Regions from separate parts of the Homo sapiens genome. Here region 1 is linked to region 2. The links come from fine-mapping of genetic effects on gene expression. A gene starts in region 2. The other region holds a variant in brackets. All regions are shown on one strand. Distances are from middle to middle.

Region 1 (5,386 bases), 82 kb before region 2:
CCAGGAAGAGATAAGGAGCCTACACCAGAATGTAAATCAACAAAATCACTAAGCACACTATTTTATTAAACTGCTTCCCCCCACAATTCTCCTTTGGTAATAATACTTTCTTGATGAAGGAAGTATACCTAGATTTACATTTTGATGTAAGCTCCTTTATGTTGCTGAAAGCCAGTACTCAGTGTAGCACTGTGCTATATACACCACAAGAAAATACCGAAGGTTCACAGAATATCAGACTCTGCTGAGAACTATCCCTCCACTTAAAAATAAGAAGTGAGAAGACTATTAAATGAGCACACTATAAAAGCTAAACATATATTGATAGATTTTAGTCTTATAAGAAACTTTCGTAAGTTAAAGCAATGTCTTTCATAGTATGCCTAATCACTGTTGTGTTGTACTGTAGCTATAAGTGGTAAGCAATTCACTTTATACCATAAAGTTTTATAAAATGTATTTTTCTCATTACTACTAACTCTCCAATATCTGAAATCAACACCTATATAGACAATTTTTCTTCCCTATTGGCCAAACTTTATTTGGCAACTTGTGCTGCCTCCAATGTCTTCAGCCTGTCCAAAGCACTACCTGAGGAACAGGCCTCAGAAATGCTAGCAGTCAAGAGTGGGACAGAGCAGATCAGTTTTCCTAGGAAAAGTTCCCAAGGCACATGAAATTAGGTTTTCCTCTGGACAGGCTTCATGAATCACATTATGATCTTACAATCCATGGGATAATATTTAAGAAATATGGAAAAGCACCTACATCTCTGGCACGTAGGTAGCATTTACTCATCTCTGTAGCCCTCATGCATCACTACTCTTCATACCCTGTCCCATCTATACCACTCCCTGGCCATACTTTATAATTATTTCCTTGAATATGCCCTCCTCTCTCTCAGCTCTGGGAATCTGCACGCACTGCCCCCTTTGCTGCCTTTATTTTTCTGACACAGCAACTCACTCTGTCACCCAGGCTGGAGTGCAGTGGTGTGATCACAACTCACCACAGCCTTAACCTCCCTGATTCAATACATCCTCCCACCTCAGCCTCCCAAGACGCTGGGACTGCAGGTATGTGTCACCACACACGTCTAATTTTTGTATTGTTTGTAGAGACGGGGTTTCACTATGTTGCCCAGGCTGGTCTTGAACTTCTAGACTCAAGTGATCTGCCTTCCTTGGCCTCCCAAAGTGCTGGGATTATTGGCCACTGTGCCTGTAAGTCAGGATTATGAGCCACTGTGCCCAGCCTCCCGTTTGCTTCTTAGTGTCACTCTCTGTCCAGTGAACATTTCGCCCCACAGGAGGCAACACAGTCATTGGTTGTTCAGAGCTCTCCCTGGTACCCCTGGTCTAGGCTAGGCTTCTCTCTTCTGTCCTTCCAGAGCTTCTGTTCTTGCCTCAGATACAGTTCTGTAGGGATAGGACTATGACAGTGTATTTACTTTTCTGTTTTCCCTACACCAAGTATCCAAGGCATAAACAACACACCTTATGTCTCTGTTCCAAATGCCTAGACAGGTGACAATATATCTTTGTGAAGGAATGGATATATATACTAAAGCTTTCAAAGGCATGAAATTCTTTGTGCGACAGATTTTTATCAAGATTTAGGATACTTCCTGAAAGTCTGTGAATGAATGGGCCTATTGACTTCTATGGTTATCTCATAAAATATATTCCATCAAAAGATACCTCTAAAATATAACATAAATTTCACATAGAAAGTGCTATGGTTTGAATGTCGAATCCCTTCCAAAATTAATGTGGAAAGTTAACCCCCATTGTTATGAAGTGGGGCCTTTTCGGAAGTGATTAAGTCATAATGGCTTTGCCTTCATGAATGGATTAATGCTCTGATAAAAGAGGCTTCAGAGATTTGCCCTCTCTTGCCTTTCGTCCCTTCCACCATGTGTGGACACAGTAATCCTCCCTTCAGAAGGATGCAGCAATAAGGCACCATTTTGGAACAGGGAGCAGCCCTCACTATACAACTTGCTGGTGCCTTGATCTTCAACTTCCCAGCCTCCAGAATTGTGAAAAATAAATTTCTGTTCTTTATAAATTACCTAGTCTCAGGTATTTTGTTACAGCAGCACAAACAGACTAAGACGGCAAGCCTAAAATTCACTTTAAGAGTGTACTCTACGTTTTATAATACAGCTTTTGTACAGAAAAGAAAACAAATACTAATGATTAGCATATTCATTAAAACCACCTATATACAGAAGACTTAAAGAAAATAGCCTAAATTACAAATAATAATCTTCTGATGACTTTGTTATTAACCACTGCATAAGCTTTACAATTTTCAGTATTTTTCAAGTAGACATTTATTATTTTTATAATCAGAAAAATATTTTTTAAAATTATTTTTATTTTTTAGGCAAGAGCACAGTTCACTGTAGCCTTGAACTTCTGGGCTCAAGTGATCCTCTTGTCTCAGCTTTCGGAGTAACTGGGACTACAGGTACACACCCCCACACCTGGATAATTTTTAAATTTCTTGTGGGGACAGGGTCTCATTACATTGACCAGGCTGATCTCAAACTCCTGGGCTCAAGCGATCCACCTCAGCCTCCCAGGGTGTTGGGATTACAGGCATGAGCTACTGTGCCCAGCCAGAAAAAAATATTTAAAAAGGCATATATAAAGTAAATGATTCTGAGCAATTAATTTCTGTGTTTTAGGGAGTTCATGATATTGCAGTATTTAAACGTTTAAATAGCCACAATGTTGTTGACACTGTCCCCAAATTGTAGTATAATTACCTAAATTAATTGTCTTTTTGCACTCAAAGATCCAGTGTGACCCTATTTAAGAGATATTTTAAGAAGACCCTATATGGGCCGGGTGCGGTGGCTCACACCTATAATCCCAGCACTTTGGGAGGCCAAGGCAGGCAGATCACCTGAGGTCAGGTGTTCGAGACCAGCCTGACCAATGCAGAGAAACCCTGTCTTTACTAAAAATACAAAATTAGCTGGGCACGGTGGTGCATGCCTGTAATCCCAGCTACGCAGGAGGCTGAGGCAGGAGAATCACTTGAACCCGGAAGGCGGAGGTTGTGGTGAACCGAGTGCGTCATTGCACTCCAGCCTGGGCAACAAGAGTGAAACTCTGTCTCAAAAAACAAACAAACAACAACAACAACAAAACAACAACAACAAAAAATCCCCTGCATGGTCTTTTTAAAATATCTCTTAAATAGGTTTTAAAAAGATGAAATCCAGACTTGGTATCACATAAATGCCTGCATAAAAAATATAAATAGAAAACACTGAATGTATATTAACAACTATGGTATTTGTCTCTTGGTATTTATTTTTCTGGATTAGTATCACAAGAC[A/G]GCAAACAACAGAAACCTGCAGGAGACCTAATATGCTTACATACAAGCAGCTCTGATGGTCAAATGAAGCCCTTCCTAGTTTACTGTGAAAAATTAGACTGTGTTAAATGGGGCATCATTTGCCCCCATACAGGGCAAAAATTTGATATGCCTATAAAAGATAGATTTACAAAAAAGACAGAATTTAGAGTATAAATTCTTATGAAATAATCTTGAACAATTAAATGCAGCTTAATTTCCCAGTTTGGTCATGCAAACTAGATCAGGGGTTGGCAAATGTTTTCTGTTACGGGCCAGAGAGTAAATATTTCAATTTTAGGTTTTGTGGGCCAAGAGGCAAAATTGAGGATATAGGTAGTTACAGAATGAGAGGAAAAAATCTCAACAAAATTTTCACTAAGATAAAAATGTAGTAATCATTGAGTATAATTTTTTAAATAAGAGAGGTTTACTAATGAGAAGAATGAAAATACTTCTTTTGGGCAAGGGATAGTACTTTGTTTAATTGGGGTTCAAAGTTAACATTGCAAATGTTCATCTGTTAATGTCCATCTGTAACGAGATTTTTACATTTCCATACGATAGAACTGTATGTAATGAGATTTATAATTCATCTTTGAAAATGTCTTTTCAAACAGGTAGCACAGCTAACATATCAATGCATAATAAACAATGCTTTGCCATCTAACTCAAAAATAAAATAATCCCCTATCCACAGTGCTTCAAAAAAAATCGTAATGTTAAAAGTCCACTTTTCTTTTCTTGTTTTGACATGATGGCCATATACTAATAAAAAACAGTAAAATGTCGCAACATGGTGCTATGCATGGCACTCCAAACACTATCACATTATATGTATCTCACTGTGATTTGTAGAGTATCAAACAGCAGTGTAAAGCTGAAGAGAGAGTATTTTGTAAAGTCTCTGCTGCAACTACTCAATTCTGATGCTGTAGTGTAAAAGCACTCATTGGTAATATGTAAACAAATGAATGTGATTGTGTTCCAATCAAACTTTATAGACACTGGAATTTGAATTTCATATACTTTTCACTTCATGAAATATTCTTCTTCTTTGGATTTCATCTATCAAAAAATGTAAAAACTACTTTTAGCTGATAGGCTGTAAAAAACAGGCAGTGACAGTGGGCTATATCATCGGGCCCAGGGAACCATAGTTTGCTAACCCCTGAAAGGTATGATACAGGTTCCTATATTCTTACCTTCTGGCAAGCTGCCTCAATTGTTCAGCACACTCGCTGTCTGATTTCTGGTTTATAAGTTCAAGGATGTTCATGGTTCTATGAAAATGGCCACATGATAAACTCACACTAACAGCTGTTTCATGTTTATCCCCAGTAAGTACCCATACTTTGATACCAGCCATTCTCAATGCTTCAATAGTTTCTCGAACTTTATCTTGTAGTCTGAAAAGAACAGAAACAAATTAGTAGTAGAGAATACTTTTATGACTGTATTTTAAGTTAAACTACATAGTATATTTAAGGATAATTCTAAACTCTTTGACTTGACCTAGGAATGTTATTATACAATATAGCAATATAACTGGAATTTTCTCTCATTAGGAAGGAAACACGAATAAACAGATTGGTAATTGTCTGGTTAACACAAAATCAACCAATTAAAATCTACAATTTCATATTTTAAGAATGTATCTTCAAAGTTGCTATTCATAGGATGAAACTATGTGCTCTTCATAAACTCCTGTTTTATTACGAAGTCTTACATTTCAAACAAGAAGATTTTTCTCCTTTTGTTTTGATTTAAAAAAATATCTCAAACCACTCATATAGTTAAAAAATCAGACTGTAGAAAATAAAGGTCTAGCTAACTTTAGGTGAGTCTCAGAAATCTCGTAAGGACAACCAAAAAGTAAATGAAAACATAGATTTTAAAAATATGCAAACACCCTTAGGTCTAGGTGGTGGAGGCAAACATAACAACAAACTTAATCTGCAGAATTCAATCTCAGAATTCAGCTAAATTTAAGAAACTGTGAAACAGACATTGA
Region 2 (5,386 bases):
TACCAGCACACAGCAAGTGCTTTAAAAATGTAGTATTACATTCAAATATGTACTGACACAGACTTTCATTTAAAAGTCTAAATTGGTGCTGTCCAATAGAATTTTCTGTGATAATGAAAATATGAACTGTCCAATATGGCAGCCAATGGCAGCCAATAGACACATGAATTCAAATTTTAATTTTAATACCCACATATGGCTCCAATTTTAATTTTAATGGCCACTTGTGGCTAATGGCTACCGTACAGGTCTAAATATTAGAATACAGTGAGTAGCTAATGGCATTTCCATAATTATAATCAAGGTATTGTCATCTCTAATGAGTTAATACATAAAATATGGTACTGAAAATGAGTATACTTTGAATAATACTAACTGTACCACAAAGACACCATAAGAGAATTTTCTTAGTGTCAAGTAACTTTAACATTGTGTGCCAAAAAGAAAAACAAAAAAGGATATTCCAATCTTTTTATTTTCAGCCTACTTTCCCAATAGAAAAGATCAAGCTTCTGTCAACTTTCTGATTTTTCCATCTTCTCAAGTAGTGAAAATATTTTGTCATAAGGAGTCACACTTTTTTTTAATTAAAAAGAAATTACTAGAACATAGGCATTGTTTCTGTAATAAAAGGACTTTTTTGTGAGACATTAGTTGAAAATCGGGATTCATATAACGAATTAAATATGCTTATAACTCCAACCTGTCCTTAGGATTTGCTTGTCAATTTCCCCAAATTTGTCCTAGTTATCTGCATTTTAAAATAAACCCATTGCTGAAAGTCGTGGTGATTCAATCCATTAAGCCACTGGAAGTATAATCTAAACTAGCTTTTACCTGAGTTGAATAATTTCTGGTGCAGTAATCAGAATAGCTGTCTATGACTGGGATAGCAAAATATACTTTCATTACTCTGTATCCAGGGTCCTTGATGTTTAATTTATGTGATCATACAAACTTAACCAGAGACACAAAGTCCTACATTGGCCCAAGTATGATTACATACTTAGAGGATCTGATAACTTAAAACCAGTGAGGTGAGCAACTAAATGTCAGAGATAGCATTTTTTATGCACAGGAACTTGTTCAACTCGTTAACCATCCCTGTTAAGACGGCTGCCTTGTAAAATAACCACACACAACTTCCGGCCCTTCCTTTTAGCTGGGTTCATTTGAAGCCATTTTAAAAAACATTACCAGGTTTTCTGTCTTGAAGATGAGCATGGTTATACAACCAGGATTTTATTCTGGCTAAAAAATACCTAACAGTGAGAAAGGATGTCTCAATACATTTTTAAAAAAGCTTCAAGAGAACCACTTTAAAATGATCTTCCTACCACACAAAAACACCATCAGGTAAATCAGCCCTCTATACAAGAAGATTTGGCAAATCAAAAGCATAAGATCAAATCTGTAATAATTAACTTTCTGAGTAAAATTACTGTGCTACAGCTTACTGCAACAAAGCCAAAGTATTACAAGATGGTATTATAATGACATCATTAGCTTGGTTTCCTAATAAAGCATATATCTGGGATATCTGAATTTACAATGCTAAAAACAGAGACCCAACATTTGTAGGAGGGAGTGGTAGGCAGTTCTTATTTATAATTTTTTTTTTTTTTTGAGAATGATGCCCGCTGCAAAACGAAGTAACAGAAGGCTGGCTCTGAAACACCACACTTCTTGGTCTTAACGTTAAAATGCTTTTCTAGAGCAGAAGGGAAAAAGAGTTATCAGTGCTTTCGTCCCACAAAAATAGTTCCTGTTTCACTAAATTTTACCACTGCCTTTAGAATTAGTAAATGAAAACGCCAACTTGTAGAAGCATTAAGTTAATGCGATTTAGAAATTAAATAGTAACCGGCCTCATCACACAGATAAGGTTAGGCTTCTTCAGCCAGGGGCAATTTCTGTCCTAATTGTCACAGCTGCCTTAATGCTGTACTTTCTGCGCTGTAGCTGCCAGGAGGCAGATAAGATTTTTCTCTCTGAATTAATTCTGGGAAAGGTGGCACTTTTTATAGGCCTTAAATGACCCTTTTCTAAGATTTTTTGTTGGTGGTGTCCAGATGTTCCAATAATACTGGAGAGTTAACTATTCCTTCCAAACCTGTGTCGTTCAAACTGCCTTGAGGAGAACGGGAAAAAAGTAAGGTTCACACTCGAAAAGTTTCACTCGGGGTGGGGTGAGGACGAGGTAGGAAGGAAACGACAGTACGTATCGTTCGTAACTATCGTACAATACGTATCGTTTCCGAAGCTAGACCGGCAGCTGGCACAGTCTTTCCCCTTTCCAGGTCCTGGGGAGAAACGTCTCTCGCTGAGGGGGCTAGACACCTACGACAGCCTCCTCCTCGGGAATCAACACAGCTCTGGATCGTGACACGCTTCCAGAAGTCCGTGACGAGTGGGGGCAGAAGACAGGTTCTTCGCTTCCCCTTCACCCAAACACGTCCCAAATTGTTCGAGGCAGGAAGAGCACGCCTCTCTCATCTCCCCAAGACCTACTCTCGCTCAGCTCCCTCGCCCTGTTTCCTCTGGGGGCACCGCCACCCCGCTCGGGACTCCCGCCTCTGGCCACAGCAGCCCCGGAGCGGCAAGGGGGAAGAAGTAACGGAGAAGCGCCGGCTAGAAGCGGCCGCCTCCGGCCGCTCGGCGCCAGCCTCGGCGGCCCGGGCTTGGAGGCGAGACGAGCCCGGGAGCCGCACGGGGCTTCTCCGGCTCTGGGCCCCGCGCCCGTCTCCGCTGCGGCCTAGCCGGGCGCCCACGCCCTGGCCTCCCGGCTCCGCGCCGCCGGCCTTTCCCCGCCACCCCGGGCCGAGAGGCCCCGCGGGGGCGGACGAATGGAGGTGGAGGGGCGGGGGCACCTACCAGCTGCTGCCGGATCCAGCGCCACATTCCCCCGTCGTCGCCGTCCGGGTCCCGCGGGGCGCGGGGGCCGCGGGGCTGCAGGTGGAGGCCGACAAGACAGAGGCGGGAGCGGGCGAGCCCCTCGGGCCGAAGTTCCGCTTACCGCCGCCGCCGCCACTGCCTCACTCCCCGCGCCGCGTCCCCATCCCGCGGCGTCGGCCCCGAGTCCTACAGGCGCGGCCCCGGCGCCGCCCCCGCCCGGCGCAGCTGAGCCTGCCGCCGCGCCGCAGCCACCTTCATTATTGACCGTTGTCACCCAAAGCACCCCCGCAACCCCACCCCCGCCCCGCCCCGCCCGGCCCCCCGGCTCCACCCGGGACCGCCCCCGGCGCCCCGGCCCGCCCCCGGACGTGACGAAAGGGGGTGCGCGGACCGAGGGGGGCCTGGCGCGCCCCGCCGCCGTTCCGAGTTGGGGGGTTTCTGTGTTGTGGGTCCGGGAAGAAGCGAGCGTGGAAAGGTGCCGGGTTCTCGAACGCTGTTTCTGTCCACTGCCACCCTCCTCCCCGTTCTGGGAGTGGGATTAAGTCGTGTCTGTGGGTCTGGCCATCTCCGGAGTCTGCAGCTTGGGGCCGATTCCTCGGTCTCTACCTCCTGTTGCAGGTCTTTTTCGGGCTCTGTGGCTTCTTTGGTTCACGCGTCTCCCGACACGCATACGCACAGTCCTGAACGTATGTGACTGAAAGTTAATCCCCCCAGAAGTCCCAGTTTGGGTTCCATCAAGCTGTAAGAGCTTTCGTCTCAACACAAGTCAGGCCTCTTCTTTAGCAAATGGCTGAGACGGGGCTAGGGAAATCTTGATCACACCCATTAAGTGATTCGAAAGCGTTGCAAGTCCCCTGAGCCTGGTACAGCCTGGACCCGTGTTTCTAGGCGAATGGATGAGATATTCTGTCTTGCCGTGTGCTAAATTGGACAGGTTCAGGGGAAGATAATTTGTATAAAAAGGTAGTTCTTTACTGCTAACTGCCAAACTTCTGCAATCAAAAACACCCGTAGCAGTAACTTGACCTAGGTTAAAAAAGTGTGTGGATGACAAGCTCAGAAGGAATATACAAGCAACTGGAACAAGGCTTTGACTTAAAGGTTTGGCGTTGTTTAAAAGCAGCCCCGTATACATATTGTGTTATGTATATGTATTGAATGCTGTATTTTTGCTGAATTAAAGCACACTTCACCGACAGACGTTTGTGGTTAAAAAAAAAAAAATTAAGCGGCCGGGCGCGGTGGCTCACGCCTGTAATCCCATGTAATCCCAGCACTTTGGGAGGCCGAGGCGGGTGGATCACGAGGTCAGGAGATCGAGACCTTCCTGGCTAACATGGCGAAACCCCATCTCTACTAAAAAATACAAAACATTAGCCGAGCGTGGTGGCGGTCGCCTGTAGTCCCAGCTACTCGGGAGGCTGAGGCAGGAGAATGACGTGAACCCGGGAGGCAGAGCTTGCAGTGAGCCGAGATGGCGCCACTGCACTCCAGCCTGGGCGGCAGAAGGAGACTCCGTCTCAAAAAAAAAAAAAAAAAAAAAAAATTAAGCAAGAACAAATCTAAATGAGATTAGCATGACTAGGCAGGTCGTTGAATATGCATCCTCAATCTTCTAGTTTCAGTAGACATTTCTTACTATATAATGCTTATCCAGCACCACAAATAGAATCTTTCTTTGGGGATATTTATGATCTGTAAAACCAACATGGAATTTTATATTATAAATCATCCAACTTCAAAAAATAGCTAGATATTTGAAAAGTCATCTTACTTTTATTCTTGTGGCTAAACCTTACTTTATGACCCTAAAAGGAAGTTTTGAGATATATTTAGTGACAAAACCTTACTGCCATTCATGGAGCACTGTGTCCATTCATGGAGCACCCAGGTCCTGTATCAAGTTCTTTACTTGTATGCTGTAATTTAACTCCAATCAATCCCTTGAAGTAGGTATTATTCCCGTTTTGTATAGATGCAGAAATGGAGGCTCACACTAATTTGGCAAAGCTAGGATTCAGATTCTGGATTGTCAGGCAATAGTGCTCATGTTCTTAAGCTACGTCCAAAAATAAAAATATGGCCATGCCTACTTTTATTCATCTGCAAATGGTTTGATTACAAATTAGGCCTGGAAATTTTTATTTATATGCCGCTAAAATTTTTCAAGATAACATAAGAAATAGCGATCTGGAGAATACTTTGTGTATCATTATTTAATTGTGCCCCAAATTTCAAAAGGAAGAAGTTGGGAGAAGGAAGGGCTTGATTCCTAGTGCTCTGGTGGAATATGGTAAGAAGTAATCTCAGGGTAACTATGTAAAGATCAAATTGAAGCTCAAACTGTCAGGAACAGAATGAGCAGCCCAGGTAGTGTTTTAAGCCTTTTTTTTTTTTTTTTTTTTTTTTTTTTGGAGACGGAGTCTCACTCTGTCGGCAGGCTGGAGTGGAGTGGCCTGATCTCGGCTCACTGCACCCTTCGTCTCCTGGG

What was found. PIP is the estimated chance that this variant, and not a neighbour inherited with it, causes the effect.
Region 1: its variant is fine-mapped to the expression of ATP11B in whole blood (INTERVAL, PIP above 0.99).

What each region holds. Positions count from the first base shown.
Region 1 is chr3:182,873,207-182,878,592 of GRCh38, reverse strand. It overlaps ATP11B (ATPase phospholipid transporting 11B (putative)), which reads right to left. Exons shown (of 30, transcript NM_014616.3): 19 at 4,578-4,781. Among named protein-coding and RNA genes, the nearest start is that of ATP11B, 82 kb to the right of the region's middle. The variant A/G (reference allele first, on the strand shown) is at 3,355.
Region 2 is chr3:182,791,275-182,796,660 of GRCh38, reverse strand. It overlaps ATP11B (ATPase phospholipid transporting 11B (putative)), which reads right to left and starts at 3,157. Exons shown (of 30, transcript NM_014616.3): 1 at 2,875-3,157. The coding sequence starts at 2,901. It overlaps ATP11B-DT (ATP11B divergent transcript), which reads left to right and starts at 3,297. Exons shown (of 3, transcript NR_187316.1): 1 at 3,297-3,581. RefSeq lists a silencer at 2,573-3,322.